2 linked regions of the Homo sapiens genome follow. The protein of the gene in region 2 interacts with the protein of the main gene of each other region in a biochemical or structural test. Each region holds a gene or a part of one and is shown on either strand. Other genes may lie near its edges.

Region 1 (8,190 bases), on a different chromosome or scaffold from region 2:
ATAGGCAGAGAGGAGAGCATCTAAGCAGCTGCCAGCTCCCATCAACTCTCAGGGCTGCAACATAGCAGACTTCTGAACCCCAGCAGAGGCTGGGCTCCTGCCCTCCAGCTCTGCCCTAGCCCCCAGCATTGGCCTCGGCACACTGTAGAATAGAGGTCTCCTCCCCTTTTCTCAGGCACCTTCCCAAGGGGGTAATCCCTCTTGCCCCACTCCATCTTCCTCTCCTGCTTTATAATCACTAGACTTCTGGTTTTGAAAACCATTTCACTACTCAGCACCTGAGGTTAATCAAAATTCAAGATCTAGAAATCTCTTTGGTGTGTGTCTCTGGAACAGCGTTCTTTGAACCAGATTCCCCCCACAGCTGTAATTATGTCTCAGCCAATATTTGGATATGGAAGTGCTGTTAACACTGCTGTCAGTCTCCAAATGCCTTGTCTCTCCTTTCTTCCTCCATTATTAAGTTTTAACACAAAGACGTGTGTGGGAAATCCACAATTTAACAGTTGAGTCAACTTAAAAGATCTGGGAGCAGGCTGCCTGTCAAAACAGACTGACTTCACTCTTCGCCCACTTCTAACCTGAGAGGGATAAACTATGAGTGTTATTTAACACGCTGCTGGATTTTTCCTTCCAAAACTATTCAAAGTAGAAAAATATGTAAACCTCTCTCTCGTTAGTTACAAGAGAAATCTGAATTGCCACTCAAAAGCATTTTATAGGATGATTTTGTGCGTGTGTCTATTAAACAGAATACAGAGCAGAAGTTGGGAGCTTTTGTTCTGAAGTCTTTACATAATATTCCAAATATCCAAGAGAATGAACAGCCAGTGTCCCCAAACTACTAATGGGTGAAGGCAGATGGTGTCTCAGAGGGGACAGCAAACACTCCTGTAAAGACCGTCTGTCACTTCCTCAATGATACAGGTTAACTGTGGTCAAACTGTATTCACCCAACTCCAGTCCCCAAGGTCAGAGCCATGCTCAATCCAAACAACTCCTCCTCCTCCTTTCCCTTCAGTTATGAGTAGGGAAAGAGAAGTCTAAGACACAAATGTTGAAGTGTTGAAGATACTTATCCCCTCTCCAACAGTCAACACTAAACAACAACCGAGATCCCAGAGCAATAACTTACAGTAGAAAGCAAAGCACTGTAACAGGGTTGAGTATGAGAGCAGCAGGAAAACAATTCTAGAGGCCTTAAAATCTAGAAATGGAACATGCTTGCCCCGTACAACCCCGAAGTACTGGTGTTTCTTTTAAAACATCTGATCGTATATTCCAATAGTTCCACCCATACCACATTTCTGAGTTTTGTACTTGACAACTGAAATACAGCTCGCTGTGGGGGCTGAAGGGGAAGAGAAAAATATAACACAGGAAGTATTTTTCTCCTCCTCCAATCATTGAGACACCCCAGGGGAAACAGACCTGAGGCGTCACCTTTAGAGATTGGTTTGACCTGAAACCCCTGTGAGAGGAAAACCTTGTTGGTGACCCTGCAAGACCGGCTCACACTTCACTGCGGACCCACCCATCTCATGAGACCTCCCAGTCCATTGTGTTTAACTTCTGAAGTCGATATTCTCACTTGAATCCTTATTCTCCCCACCACCACACCCCTTAAAGAAAGAAAAGGGATGGGCTCCCCCGGCTCAAGGATAATGTTTCCTCAGACTGCCCATCACGGCGCGAGTCCAGGACAGCAAGTGGCCCTCTCTAGGAGGCGGAATCAGCACGGGCCCGGCCGCGGGTTACAGACTCTGTTCACAATGATCAGCCGGGCCGCGGACACCGCCGGCCTCTCCCCGGAGCCGCCCCGCGCGGGCGTGGGAGGGGGCCAGCTGAGGGGGCCAGCTCCGGGATCCAAATAATCCCGCCCCCGCAGCCGGGGGACACCCAGGACCCTCCCGCCGCACACCTCCTGCCCGGCGCGCCCCAAGGCGGCCCGGCTGCCCTCGCGAGGCTCGGGGAAGTGAAATCACACATTCCGGCTCCCAAATAAGGAGCGAGGCTAAATAAACCTCTGCGATCCGACTTCTCCAAACCAACCGACCAACCGGCTCAATGAGTAATGGGCCTTTTGTGCCCGCAGAGAGAGAAAAAGGAGGGAGGAGAGGACGGGGAACCACCAACCCCAAAATCACTTCCTTGAGATGGAGTGAAATTAGCAGAAGTCCCGAAGCCAACCGTTCTGACTCGGCTGGATCCCGCTCAAACCCCAAAATGGCAGGGTCCCCTGAGTCCCCAGGAGCGGGTCCCAGGGCTCCCGCCCGGGAGCGGCCGGAAGCGGTCAGGGAGGCGAGGGCGCTGGGACCCGCCGCCCGCGCCGCACTCGGCACCGCCGGCCCGGCCGCCCCGCCCCGCCCCGCCGCGGCCACCCCTCCGCCCCGCGCCGCGACCCAGGCCGGGACGGGCACCCGACGCCGTGGAGCTCCAGGGCCCGGGACCGGCCCCGCCTCCCCTCCCCGGGCCCCAGACCTACTTTGAGGGCGAATTTCTCCTGGGTCCTCTTGTTGAAGATCTGCAAAACTTTGCCGTTGATGCCCAGCCCCAGGACCTGGCTGGTGACCTTGTAGTCATCGATGATGGCGTTCTTCTTGATCTGCAGGCCGGACTTGACGTGGAACTGCGGGAACTGCTGCGGGGGCGGCGGCGGCGGCTGCGCCGGGGGGTGCGGCAGGGCAGGGGTGGGGGGCTGCGGCGGCGGGGCCGGGGCGGGGAACGGCACCGGCGGGCTCTGGCCCTGGGAGTTGGACAGCATGGTGCCCGGGGACGCCGGGGCACAGGCGGGGGTGCCCGCGGCCGCCCCCTCCTCCGGCTCCGGGCCCCCTCCCCGCCGCCCCCCGACGGGCTGCGAAGTTCGCTCCGGGCTGGAGCCGGCTTCCCCGACCCGGCCCGGCTCCAGGCTCGGCGGGTCGCGGGGCTCCGTGGGTCCCACCGCGCGCCGCTGGCTCCCACCGGCCCGGCGCCCTCCCTCCCTCCCCCCGGGGGCCTGGCGCTCTGGGGACCGCGGGGCGGCGGGGGCCCGGCCGGGGGGAAGCGGCCGCGCGACAATGTACCCAGCCCCGGGCCGGCGGCCGCGTCACAGCCTCGTCTGCGTCCGGGGCCGGTCCTTAAAGGGGAGGGGCGGGGGGCGGGGCCTGGGGAGGCGTGGCGTGGGGGGAGGGGCGGGCCTTAAAGGGGAGGACGCGCGGTGCCGGGAGCTGGGAGGATCGCGGAGTAGGCTGGGGGCTGCTGCCTCGCGGACAGTGAGAGGGGACAGGGAGAGGGGACGAAGAAATGCTAGTTCTTAACCAAGGCTATGCAAAGGGAGAGGGGAGGCGTGTCAAAGGAGCTGCATAATTCAGATGGAAAATCCACTCCTCTCCAATTGTCTGGGCTTCTTAGCGGCAGCGAATTGGGAGAGGGGTGTATTTCCAAGGACAGGGATGGCTTGTAGGTATCCAGCTAGATGAGACCTCGTGGGGGTGGGGGGGAGCTGGAATCACAGGGGTCATTCATCCCAGGAAAAGGTGTGAGCCAAAGGCGGGCGTATTAAATATTTCCCTAACTTCAACATTTTCCTCTGAGGTTTTTTGCATCTCTTTTCTCATTAATTTATTGTTTTTCAGTAAAGACGTATTATTGTGTAACCAGGAGCACTTTAGTAATTATACCTTTGAACATGTTTTCCTGTAAATAAACTAAAAAGGATACAGGGTGGGAAGAGGATGGGTTGAGATTGGGGCCACCTGAATTCCCGCCATCCTTTGCCACGGATTGGCTGTGTGAGGCTGAGCAAGCCTTGCACCTCTCTCTCCGTGGGAAGAACAGCGAGACCTTTTCAAAGGTTGTGGGCAGAGTCAAAGGAGATAATGAAACTGAAGGGGAGGCCCTGGGGAATGGCTTCTGATTTCCGATGTGGAAAAATTAATCCGTAAGAAGTGGGTTAGCCCCGTGTATCTCAGGAAAAGCCCAGGGATCTAGCTGGACCCTGCATAGAAGCTGCCAGGAGGCCTCCACACACATTCTGATGGGGTTCGAGATGACCAAGTACATTCCTGCCGACCTCCTCCCACCTCTGACTGGCAGAACATTTGAGAAATGGCAAGCAACCCAGACAGGTGAACACAAAACCTCAGCTTAAGTCTTGGTAAGGCCAGTTAGAGAATGAGGCTTGACCTATGGCCACACATGCCCCCTAATAGGTCCCCCAAAACTCCAGAGAGAAGACAACACCCCCAGAAGTGGCCACTGGGGATAGAACTTAGGTAGGTAAGGGACAAGTGCAAATGTCTCTTCCCTCATTCACCTTTCCCAGAAGATGCTTGTGGAGGCAGGAATGAGGGGGAGGAGTGAGGGGTGGGAGTTACCCTCCCAACACTGTCCTTTCCTGGGGCAGGTAGGGCTCTGTGGACCAAGGAGAGACATGTTTCCCCCGACACAAACATATGCTCTTCTCAAGCAGCATCTGCTTAGCTCCATGTACAAGGTGCCGTGCTCAGCCCTGCAGCGGTGGATGGTGTTATCTGATGGGGAAGAAGACAGATAACAGTGGCACAGAGAGGATGGCAGACACCTTCCTAGGAGCCCGAAGCACAGGGATTCTCTTCTGTCTACAGCAGCCAGCAGCTTCCTCCCGAGTCTACAGGATAGATACGGTTAGACAGCTCCCCAGATGCCCCTGACTCTTCAAAGACAAAGACACTATCTAAGGCCACGGGGATAGGAAAACATCTTCACTCCACTACTTCTATAGCACTGCTATCACCTCCCCGAAGCACACACAGGAGATGCCCAAGGACAAGAGGAACGCAGGGGTGGGAAGGTGGAAGGCTCCAACTGCTCAGGCTCTGGTGGGGCTGCTCTGGAGTCTGAGTTGGTCTTTTTTTTCTTTGCAGAGTCACTGGAAGCTCCCTATGGCTTGGTGTTGAGGTATCACCTGCTTTTCTCCACAAAGCTAGAAAGAGAATAACTTCCTTCTGCCTTTTCAGAGGCAGCAAGGCACAGTGGTAAGATGACAGGATCTAGAGACAAATGAGCTGAAGCCAAGACTGTCCTCCAACTGGGTTACCTTGAGCAAGACATGTAACATCTCTCAGCATCTGAAAAAGAAAAGAAAAAAACAACAAAATCTACTTTCGGGGCTGAGAGAGAATAAAATGAAATAGTAATTATGAGAACACATCCTAAAGCATAAACTATACATTATCATGAAATATTAAATATCACCATTATTTAGACATTGCTGGCTTGCTCCTCTGCTCTGTGCTCATGGCCTACGGATCTATTCCTGATATCAAAGCTGCTTTCCTACCTAGCTGGAGCTCCAGGGAGATGGTGAGGCCCAATGATCTAGGAATAACAGGACAACTGAATTCCCACCTGAGAGTCCTCCCGGAGCTGCAAGAGCCAAATAGGCCTAGGGGGCACACAGGGACTCTGAGGGTACATACATAGTGGATAGAGATTATATGAACTGCACACACAGCACCAGAAAACACACACATATATGAACACAACACATGAGCACAATGTGCCATGTAACAGAATAAACGCCTAGTGGATGAATAATTGAGGAGTAAGATGTGCTAAATGCAGAAGCACTGGCCAAGAGATCCTGAGTCTTAAGTTCCATTCTGATACTGACTCGCTATGTAACCTCATGAGAGCCCCTTGCTCTCTCAGTTCCTTCCTTCTCATCTGCAAAATAGTGACAATAACATCTGCCTTGCCTACTTTGTAGGGCTTGTGCAAGGATAAAATAAAAACTTTCCTACAGGAAGCAGTCCAAAGTCCTATTTGTGTAACACCAGGCTCTTAGCCATCTGTAATGAACTACTTAATAAACAGTTTTTATGGATGTGTAAAAGCGCTTTAAAACTTGAAAGTCTATGCAAATAGAAAGTACTATTTTTATCTACTATTAACATGCAAACACATATGCCATGCAATATAGTACACACAAAGACAATTTAAGGACCTCAGGTACATAGAAATGGATTAATTATAATCCTTGATTCATGACACACTCTCGTCATTGGATCATTGATCCATGCAGCTCCACTTTTATTGTTAGTTAATAATTATTTTTAATAATGCAGTAAGCACCTGTGAATCCACTACCCAAAATAAAAACTAGAACTTCGACAATAATTTACATCTAACTAGATGATTCCTCCACACACACTCCCCCAACCCCTCCATTTTCATGGCCCAAGACCCCATCATCCTGAGTCCTATGTTCACCTTTCCCTTGCTTTCCTTTTTATATAGTTTTGTTTCATGAAGGCATGTTCAAAGGTATCATAAAAGATGAAACTCAAATCACCTTAAAAGGGAGGTGGCCAAGGGTGATGTTAGCAGCAAGACCAGGTTAAAATAAGAAAATGCCTTGTCACAGTTTCAAAGTATTCCTCACCTTCTCATGATGATGGTGATGATGATGTTGATGATGATGATGATGATGACGATGACAATGTTTTTTGAGTGCTTCCTGAGTGCCCAACACTGTGCTCAACCCTCTACCTGCATTGTCTCATTTAAATCTCATGATGATCCGTGGCTGAGATTGCTAGTTGGGTGGGCTAACACCTTTTTTTCCTCTCTTTGATAGTAAAGAGCACCCCATATTTAGCTAAGCACAAGACTGCCTGGAATAAAAATTACATTTCCCACTTGAGCAGCCTCCACTATAGCCGGTTACATTCATAAGATTAAGTTATAACCAATGACTTGTAAGTGGAAGTGGTTTATGGAAAGAAGTATGTCCTTCTTCTTCTCCTTCTCTTTTTTCTTTCCTGCTGACTGGAATAAAAATTTCACAGCTGTAGCCATCTTGGATGGTGAATTGGAGGTTACAGGTTGAGGAAGACAGAACAAAAGGACAGAAAGAGTCTGTATACTGGTGAACCTGGATCCATCATATCAGCAATGAGCCACCTACCCAGACTTTTATATGAAAGAACAATAAATGGCCTTCTTGTTGAAGTGACTGATGGTCTAGGTTTTCTATCATTCACAGCCAAACCTTATCCTACTCTTACACAGCCCTATGAGGTCTGTACTGTTATCCTCACTTATCTGTTGTATAAACAAGAAAACTGAGTCCCAGAGAAATTAAATAACTTTCTCAGAGTCATTCCACTAGCGAAGGACAGGACCCAAATCTTTCTGACCCAAAGTCCATGCTCATGGTCCTTACTATAGATCCTGAGCAGACATATACTCACATATCCTTCTTAATGTCAGAAATATGATATCTGCTATTTCTGGGCAGGAATTGCCTGAAGAGGTATGGGCTATTCTTTCCATTTTAGAGCAACATAAATTTTCCACACCTCAATTTCCTTCCATCTTGGCCTAATCTGTTACAGAATATAGGTCTATGTTAATTTGCATGACTGGGTTATATGATAGGATACATTGTGACAATCTTTTTCTTCAAGATTCCCCCACACAGCCTTCACACCATCATGGAGTAAAAGTTTCCTGTTTTACTATGACGTGGCATTATGAATGAGTGACAGAGGGTGGAAATTTATGGAGGTGGATCTCTTGGAAATTTTCAGCTAACACTCTCTTGATGAGTGAGGATCATCCACAGGCTGGCGGATCTGCGCATGAACACAGATAAAGCAGCCTTTGTATCCACTGCTAGTACCGCAAACAAAATATTGCAAGAAGGAGCATGATTTACAGAAGAAGCTCTGTCCACTAAAAACCCACTCTTGGAAAGAAAAATGGCTTAGAGCCAGAGAGAAATAGTCTTCATGTCATAGGCTAGTATTTCTGTGATAAAATGAGAAATTCCCCCAAAGCAAAAGTGACAGATATATATACATAAGACTCAGTCACAAAAATTTCTGACCCAGAAAATGACCTCAAAATATTGGTCAGGATGGCCTCTATCATCCCTTCTATCTTAGCTCTTTCTGAAGGTGTTAACGGCTGCCTCACAGAAAGGAATTCTACCCATAGCAAGTGCCATTGGTAATGCCCTAGTTAAGACATCCCAGAGGGGAAAAATCCTTCCCCCACCCACGGTGCCCTTGGTGCCCTCCGTGCCCTCATCTGCACTTCATCCTTTGATAGTTTAATGCCACGGCAGGGAACAGCTGGGGCAGTGGCAAAGAATGCGAATAGAAAGAGAAAGAAGGAAGTACCCAAAGGGGAACAGAAACTTCACCTCTGCACATCAACAGACAT
Region 2 (7,401 bases):
GTAATAGTTTAAGTGTCTGGTAGATTATTGTAATTTTTTTTTTTTTTGAGGCAGACTCTCACTCTGTCGCCCAGGCTGGAGTGCAGTGGCGCGACCTCGACTCACTGCAACCTCCGCCTCCGGAATTCAAGCGATCCTCCTGCCTCAGCCTCCCAAGTAGCTGGGATTACAGGCGCCTGCCACCATGCCCAGCTAATTTTTGTATTTTTAGTAGAGACAGGGTTTCACCATATTGGCCAGCCTGGTCTCAAACTCCTGACCTTGTGATCCGCTGGTCTCGGCCTCCCAAAATGCTGGGATTACAGGTGTGAGCCACCATGACTGGCCCGATTATTATAACTTTTACCTGAGATTGAAAAAGTTTTAGGAATTTCTTTTTGTGGCCGGGCATGGTGGCACATGCCTGTAATCCCAGCACTTTGGGAAGAGGAGATGAGTGGATCACTTGAAGCCAGGAGATCAAGACCAGCCTGGCCAACATGGTGAAACCCCGTGTCTACTGAAAATACAAAAATTAGCTGGGTGTGGTGGCTCACACTTCTGGTCTCAGCTACTTGGGAGGCTGGGGCACAAGACTCTCTTAAGCCAGGGAAGCAGAGGTTGCAGTGAGCCATGATGGCGCCACTGTACTCCAGCCTGGGTGACAAAGCAAGATCTTGTCTCAAAAAAAAAAAAAAAAAAAAAATTATTTTTGTGAAGTCATTCACATTACCAATGTTTAATAGAGTTCTGGTTTTTTTTACAGAAAAATTTTGAAAGACTTATCTTCTGAAGATACACGGGGCAGAAAAGGAGACGGAGAAAATTCTGGAGTTTCTGCTGCTGTCACTTCTATGTCTGTTCCAACTCCCATCTATCAGACTAGCAGCGGACAGTACAGTATGTATAGGAATCAGTTTCCACATTATAAACACACAAAACCTGACTTTTCTGTAGAAAGAAATGGTGTTAGGAAAACTGTAATACTTTGATAGTGATGATTATTAAAGGATGTTTTCAGCCAGGAATAATGCGAAGTACTGTTTCAGCATTATTTACTCCTTATAACAACTTTGTGACATAGGCAATTATCAATGTATGAGGGAACTGAGACCTACAACATTAGATACTGTTTTGTTTTGTTTTGTTTTGTTTTGTTTTGAGACAGAGTCTCGCTCTTGTTGCCCAGGCCGGAGTGCAGTGGCACAATCTTGGCTCACTGCAACCTCTGCCTTCCCGATTCAAGTGATTCTCCTGCCTCAGCCTCCGGAGTAGCTGGGATTACAGGCGTGTGCCACCACGCCCGGCTAATTTTTGTATTTTTAGTAGAGAGGAGGTTTCACCATATTGGCCAGGCTGGTCTCGAACTTTGACCTCAGGTGATCCGTCCACCTTGGCCTCCCAAAGTGCTGGGATTATAGACATGAGCCACTGCGCCTGGCCTTATTTTGTTCATTCTTATATCTATGTAGTTCCGTACATAATTGCTGTATATTATATTAGTATAATTCCTTTCAGAACATTCCTGGCTTTTTTTTTTTTTTTTGAGGTGGAGTTTCGCTCTGTTGCCCAGATTAGAGTGCAGTGCCATGATCTCGGCTCACTGCAACTTCCACCTCCCGGGTTCAAGTGATTCTCCTGCCTCAGCCTCCCAAGTAGCTGGGATTACAGGCGTGTACCACTTCGCTTGGCTAATTTTTGCATTTTTAGTAGAGACGGGGTTTCACCATGTTGGCCAGGCTGGTCTCAAACTCCTCCTGACCTGAAGTGATTCACCCACCTTGGCCTCCCAAAGTGCTGGGATTACAGGCGTGAGCCACCACGCCTGGCCCCTGCCTATTCGTTAAAAATATTTATTGTTTGATTTATATACAGTAAAATTCACTCTTTGGGGAGTTTAAGTCTATGAGTTTTGACAAATGTGTAGAATAGTATAACACCGCCAATCAAGATTGAGTTCTGTCACCCTAACGAATTTACTTGTGCTGCCCATTTGTTATCTCCCCCTCCACTCCTAACATTAATCTGTTTCATTCAGTCTTGCCACAAAATATATGTCCCATCTGACCACCTCTTGCCGTCTCCAACCACCACCGCCTTGGTTTAGGCTCTCATCTTAATTACTGAAGTAGGCATCCAGTTGGTCATCTTGCTTCCATTCTTGCTCTAATAATCAGTTTTCCATACTGTGGCCAAAGTGATTTATTTAAGATGTCAACTAGATCACATCGCTCCTGCCCAAAATCCTCTAGTGACATTTTATCACACTTAGAATAAAATCCGGATCTTACAAGGCATTACATTTAGGATCTGCCTACCACTCTGACCTCATCTCCTGCCACTTGGTGGCATTCTGACCACCCCAGACTTCCTTACTGTACCTCAGACACACGAGCTTGTTTCTGCCTCAGGATCTCTGGAGTTGTCATTGCTCATGCCTGGCATGTTCTTCCCCCAGATCCTTATGTGGCTACTCTGCTTAAGTGTCACCTCCACAAAGAGACCACTCTCTTCAAATATGTGGCTCCTCCCTTTAGTTTCCCTTAACCTCCTATATTTTTCTTTATAGCATTTACATATAACTAAGTCAGTACATATTAGTTTAATTATAGATTGTATGTATGTAATTATAGATTAGCTTATTCATGATCTGTTTTCCCCACTAGAATATAAGATCCTTAAGGGAAAGAACCTTTTGTTTCATTCACAACTACATCCTTGACATATAGGACCTGGCATATAGTAGGCTTTCAGTTGTTTGTTATGAATTAATTAAATAATATATATATAGAATACCTCTTGAGAAACTGGGGGCCAGGCACTGTAGTTCATGTCCGTAATCTCAGTACGTTGAGAGGCTGAGGCTGGAGGATTGCTTGAAGCCACATTCAGGACCAGCCTTGGCAACATAGCAAGACTGTGTCTTCACAGAAAAATGAAGAAAAAAAAAAAAAAAAAAAGCCGGGCATCATGGCATGTGACTAGTCCCATCTACTCGGGAGGCTGAAATGGGATCTCTTGAGTCTGGGAGTTCGAAGTTACCGTGAACCGTGATCGTACCACCGCACTCCAGCCTGGGCAATAGAGCAAGACCAGTCTCAGAAAAAGAAGAAAGAAAGAAAGAAACTGGGAGCAGTGGTTGCAAGGAAAGAAGCTTGGGAGCAGAGATCAGAGGTAGTGGGGAGGTTCACATGTTATCACTGAAATAAGTGTAGTACAAACTAGTATTTAGGGCAACATAGGCCAATAGAACTTCGTATGATAATGGGAATGTTTATATCTGCATTGTCCCAGAATAGTAGCCACTAAACCATGTGTGACTGTTGAGTGCTTGAAATATGGCTGGTGGGACTGAGAAACTGAAATTTTAATTTTGTTTAATTTTAGTTAATTTAAATAGCCACATGGAGCTAATACCCTATCAGACAGCTCAGTTTTAGAATAAATACAGCACATTAACAGGTAAATACACATGTTAAGAACAGGAAGATATGTTGCAAAAATGAAAATATGTATTCACACATATTTAATATCAAAACATTTGCATCTACAGGTATGTATTTTGATATATTAGGTTGGTGTAAAAGAAATTGCAGTTTTCACCACTGAACATAATGGCAAAAGTATATAAGTCTGTATAAGCACAGGAAAATAATGGGAAGGATGTGCACCAAAAACAATAATTATCTCAGGATGGCGGTAAAAGGGGGAAAATGAAATAGAGATAGATAATGGGACCTTTAATTTTATTTATGTTGATACTTATATAAATAAATGTGTATGTGTATATATGTATATAATAATGTGTTGCAGGGAAGAAGATTGAAACTAATTGCTAATATAACTTCACAGCAAATCTCAGCCTGGCGTGTTGGATCACGCCTGTAATCCCTGCACTTTGGGAGGCCAAAGTGGGAGGATCACTTGATTTCAAGACCAGACTGGGCAATATAGGGAGACCCTATCTCTATAAAAAATTTAAAAATTAGCTGAGCATGTCCGTGTGCATCTATAGTTCCAGCTACTTGGGAGGCTGAGGTAGGAGGATTGCTTGAGCCCAGGAGGTAGAGTGCAGTGGTGAACCAGGACCACACCACTGCACTCCAGCCTGGGTGACAAGTGAGACCCTGTCTCAAAAAAAATAGCCAACATATCCCTGTATCTAACATTTAAAAAAATATTTTGAAACTCATAAATTAAAGTTGGGGCAGTTGGGGAGGGATAATTATGAATGCGTGAAAAAAAATATTTTTCCATCACACACATATACATATACATGTATTTTGGCTTCCTGGTAGCCAAAGCATAAAAGGAAAAAAAAATGTTTCATAACTGTAATCTGAAAAGAGGGTACAGAGATGAGGCATTCGATTCTGAAGAGTATATGGGAATTGAATAATGCTAAAATGTTTTCTATTTGATCATGCCTTATGGGCATTTAAGGGCTGAGGAGAAAGCATGAACACAGGTATAATTCAGTGAAAAAATGTTTGTGGGGAGCTAAGTAGTATTTTCTACACAGTGGCTTTCTGCTATCTTTATTAGTGATTTTCACTAGGAAGTAAATGAATAGATTACATTTCTTAACTATCACTTAAGTAAATATCTTAATAACATGTAATACATTTAACAGTGGTACCACTAGAAAATGAAGCTAAGAAACCATATAAAGATGACTTATTTTCTCATTATATAACCTTTTATTCTATTGAATTTTTTCCATAAGCATGTTATCTATTCAGAAATATTTTAAAGTAATAATATTTTTAATGCTTTTGACTCAAAATTACAAACTATGTTTATGTTTCCTTTTTATTTTTTCTTAAAAATTAACTATCATGGGGCCAAGTGCAGTGGCTCATGCCTGTAATCCCAGCACTTTGGGAGGCTGAGGCGGGTGAATCACCTGGGGTCAGGAATTTGAGACCAGCCTGGCCAACATGGAGAAGCTCCGTCTCTACTAAAAATATAAAAATCAGCTGGGCATGGTGGCGCACACCTGTAATCCCAGCTCCTTGGGAGGCTGAGGCACAAGAATGGCTTGAACCCAGGAGGCAGAGGTTGCAGCCAGCCGAGATCGTGCCACTGCACTCCAGCCTGGGCGGTAGAGCGAGACTCCATCTCAAAAAAGAAAAAAAAAAAAGAAATGCTGTTTTATTCCTTTTACATGTAGTTCACCTAAAGTAAAGTAGTCTGCAGTTACCAAGTAGAAGTGCATTCATACCTGTTTTAGTAAATAGTGTTTGTGGGCTTTTTGCCACTCCTTTGAATTAGTGTATTATATAACCTTACAATAGCTATTTTCTCTTTTTGATTAAAGTTGCCATTGCCCCAAATGGAGCCTTACAGTTGGCAAGTCCAGGCACAGATGGAGTACAGGGACTTCAGACATTAACCATGACAAATTCAGGCAGTACTCAGCAAGGTACAACTATTCTTCAGTATGCACAGACCTCTGATGGACAGCAGATACTTGTGCCCAGCAATCAGGTGGTCGTACAAAGTAAGTATGCTTTCTGTCTACAGAAAGTCTCCTAACACTGTCAGAGACACTTACTAACTAACTCATTCACTCTTGTTTACCATCTAGCTGCATCAGGAGATATGCAAACATATCAGATCCGAACTACACCTTCAGCTACTTCTCTGCCACAAACTGTGGTGATGACATCTCCTGTGACTCTCACCTCTCAGACAACTAAGACAGATGACCCCCAATTGAAAAGAGAAATAAGGTTAATGAAAAACAGGTAGGTAGTAAAATCGTAGTACCAGAATGGGTAATGTTTTTACAAATCTCACAACATAACCAGATGTTAACTGGAACTGTATACAGTCATGGGCTGCATGACAATGTTTAAGTAAACAATGGACCACATAAATGAATGACGGTGGTCCCATAAAATTATAATGGAGCTAAAAAGTCCTGTGCTAATGTCATAGTGCAACACATTACTCACGTTTGTGGCAATGCTGGTATAAACAAACCTATTGTGCTGCCAATCATATAAAAGTGTAGCACATGCAATTATGTATAGAACATAATACTTGATACTATAATAAGTTAATATGTTACTGGTTTATGAATTTACTATACTTTTAATCATTATTTTAAAGTGTATACCTTCTACTTTTTTTTTTTTTTTTTTAAAGTTAACTGTAGGCCAGGCATGGTGGCTCACGCCTGTAATCCCAGCTGAGGCGGGCAGATCACGAGGTCAGGAGATCGAGACCATCCTGGCTAACGTGGTGAAACTCCATCTCTACTGAAAATACAAAAAAATTAGCTGGGCGTGGTGGCGGGCGCCTGTAGTCCCAGCTACCCGGGAGGCTGAGGCAGGAGAATGGCATGAATCTGGGAGCCGAAGCTTGCAGTAAGCTGAGATTGCGCCACTGCACTCCAGCCTGGGCAACAGAGTGAGACTCTGTCTCAAAAAAAAAAATTTTTTTAACTGTAAAACAGCCTCAAGGCAGCCCCTACAGGAGGTATTCCAGAAGAAGGCATTGTTATCATAGGAGATAACAGCTCCCTGTGTGTTATTGCCCCTAAAGACCTTCCAGTGGGATAAGGTATGGAGGTGGAAGACAATGATATTGATGATCCTGACCCTAGGCTAGTTAGCCTAGGCTAATGTTGGTGTTGGTGTCTTAATTTTTAACAAAAAAGTTCAAAAAGTAGAAAAGTTATATTTGGTTTTTGTGATTTTTTTTTTTAAGACAAGGTCTCACTGTGTCACCCACACTGGAGTGCAGTGGCACAATCTTGGCTTACTGCAACCTCTGCCTCCAGGGCTCAAGTGATCCTCCCAGCTCGGCCTCCCAAGTAGCTGAGACTACAGATGTATACCACCACACCCAGCTAATTTTTTTTTTTTTTCTTGTAGAGGTGGGGTTTTGCCATGTTGCTTAGGCTGGTCTCAGACCTGGGCTCAAGTGATCCATCCACCTGCCTCAGCCTCCCAAAGTGCTGGGATTACAGGCATGAACCACTGCACCCAGCCCCCAAAAATTTAAAATTAGCTAGTACAACCACTATGAAAACCAGTATGGAGACTTCTCAAAAAACGAAAAATAGAAATCTACCCAAAGGAAAAGAAATCAATATATCAGAGGGATACCTGTACTCATAAGTTTACTTGCAGCACTATTCACGCACAATAGCTAATAGAATCAACTATGTGTCCATCAGTGGATAAATGGATAAGAAAGAATTAAATCATGTCATTTGCAGCAACATGGATGGAATTGAAGGTCAGTATCTTAAGTGAAATAAGCCAGGCACAAAAAGAAAAAATATCACATTCTCACTTATATGTGGGAGCTAAAATATTTGAACACATGGAAGTAGAGAGTGGAAAAATAGGGCTGGGCGTGGTGGCTTATGCCTGTAATCCCAGCACTTTGGGAGGCCGAGGCGGGAGG

Evidence for each region. The genes of interacting proteins can lie anywhere in the genome.
Region 1: of the proteins of ATF1 (region 2) and MAPKAPK2, one has a biochemical effect on the other in vitro, tested with the Homo sapiens proteins (one study listed by BioGRID).

The regions. Positions count from the first base shown.
Region 1 is NC_000001.11:206,679,804-206,687,993, reverse strand, and holds the start of MAPKAPK2 (MAP kinase-activated protein kinase 2), read right to left. Parts: upstream 3,090-8,190; 5' UTR 2,765-3,089; coding exon 2,486-2,764; intron 2,361-2,485; exon of another isoform or gene 2,137-2,360; intron 1-2,136. UniProt on the Homo sapiens protein: Stress-activated serine/threonine-protein kinase involved in cytokine production, endocytosis, reorganization of the cytoskeleton, cell migration, cell cycle control, chromatin remodeling, DNA damage response and transcriptional regulation.
Region 2 is NC_000012.12:50,808,711-50,816,111, forward strand, and holds part of ATF1 (cyclic AMP-dependent transcription factor ATF-1), read left to right. Parts: intron 1-745; coding exon 746-879; intron 880-2,910; exon of another isoform or gene 2,911-3,153; intron 3,154-5,276; exon of another isoform or gene 5,277-5,299; coding exon 5,300-5,482; intron 5,483-5,569; coding exon 5,570-5,729; intron 5,730-6,132; exon of another isoform or gene 6,133-7,230; intron 7,231-7,401.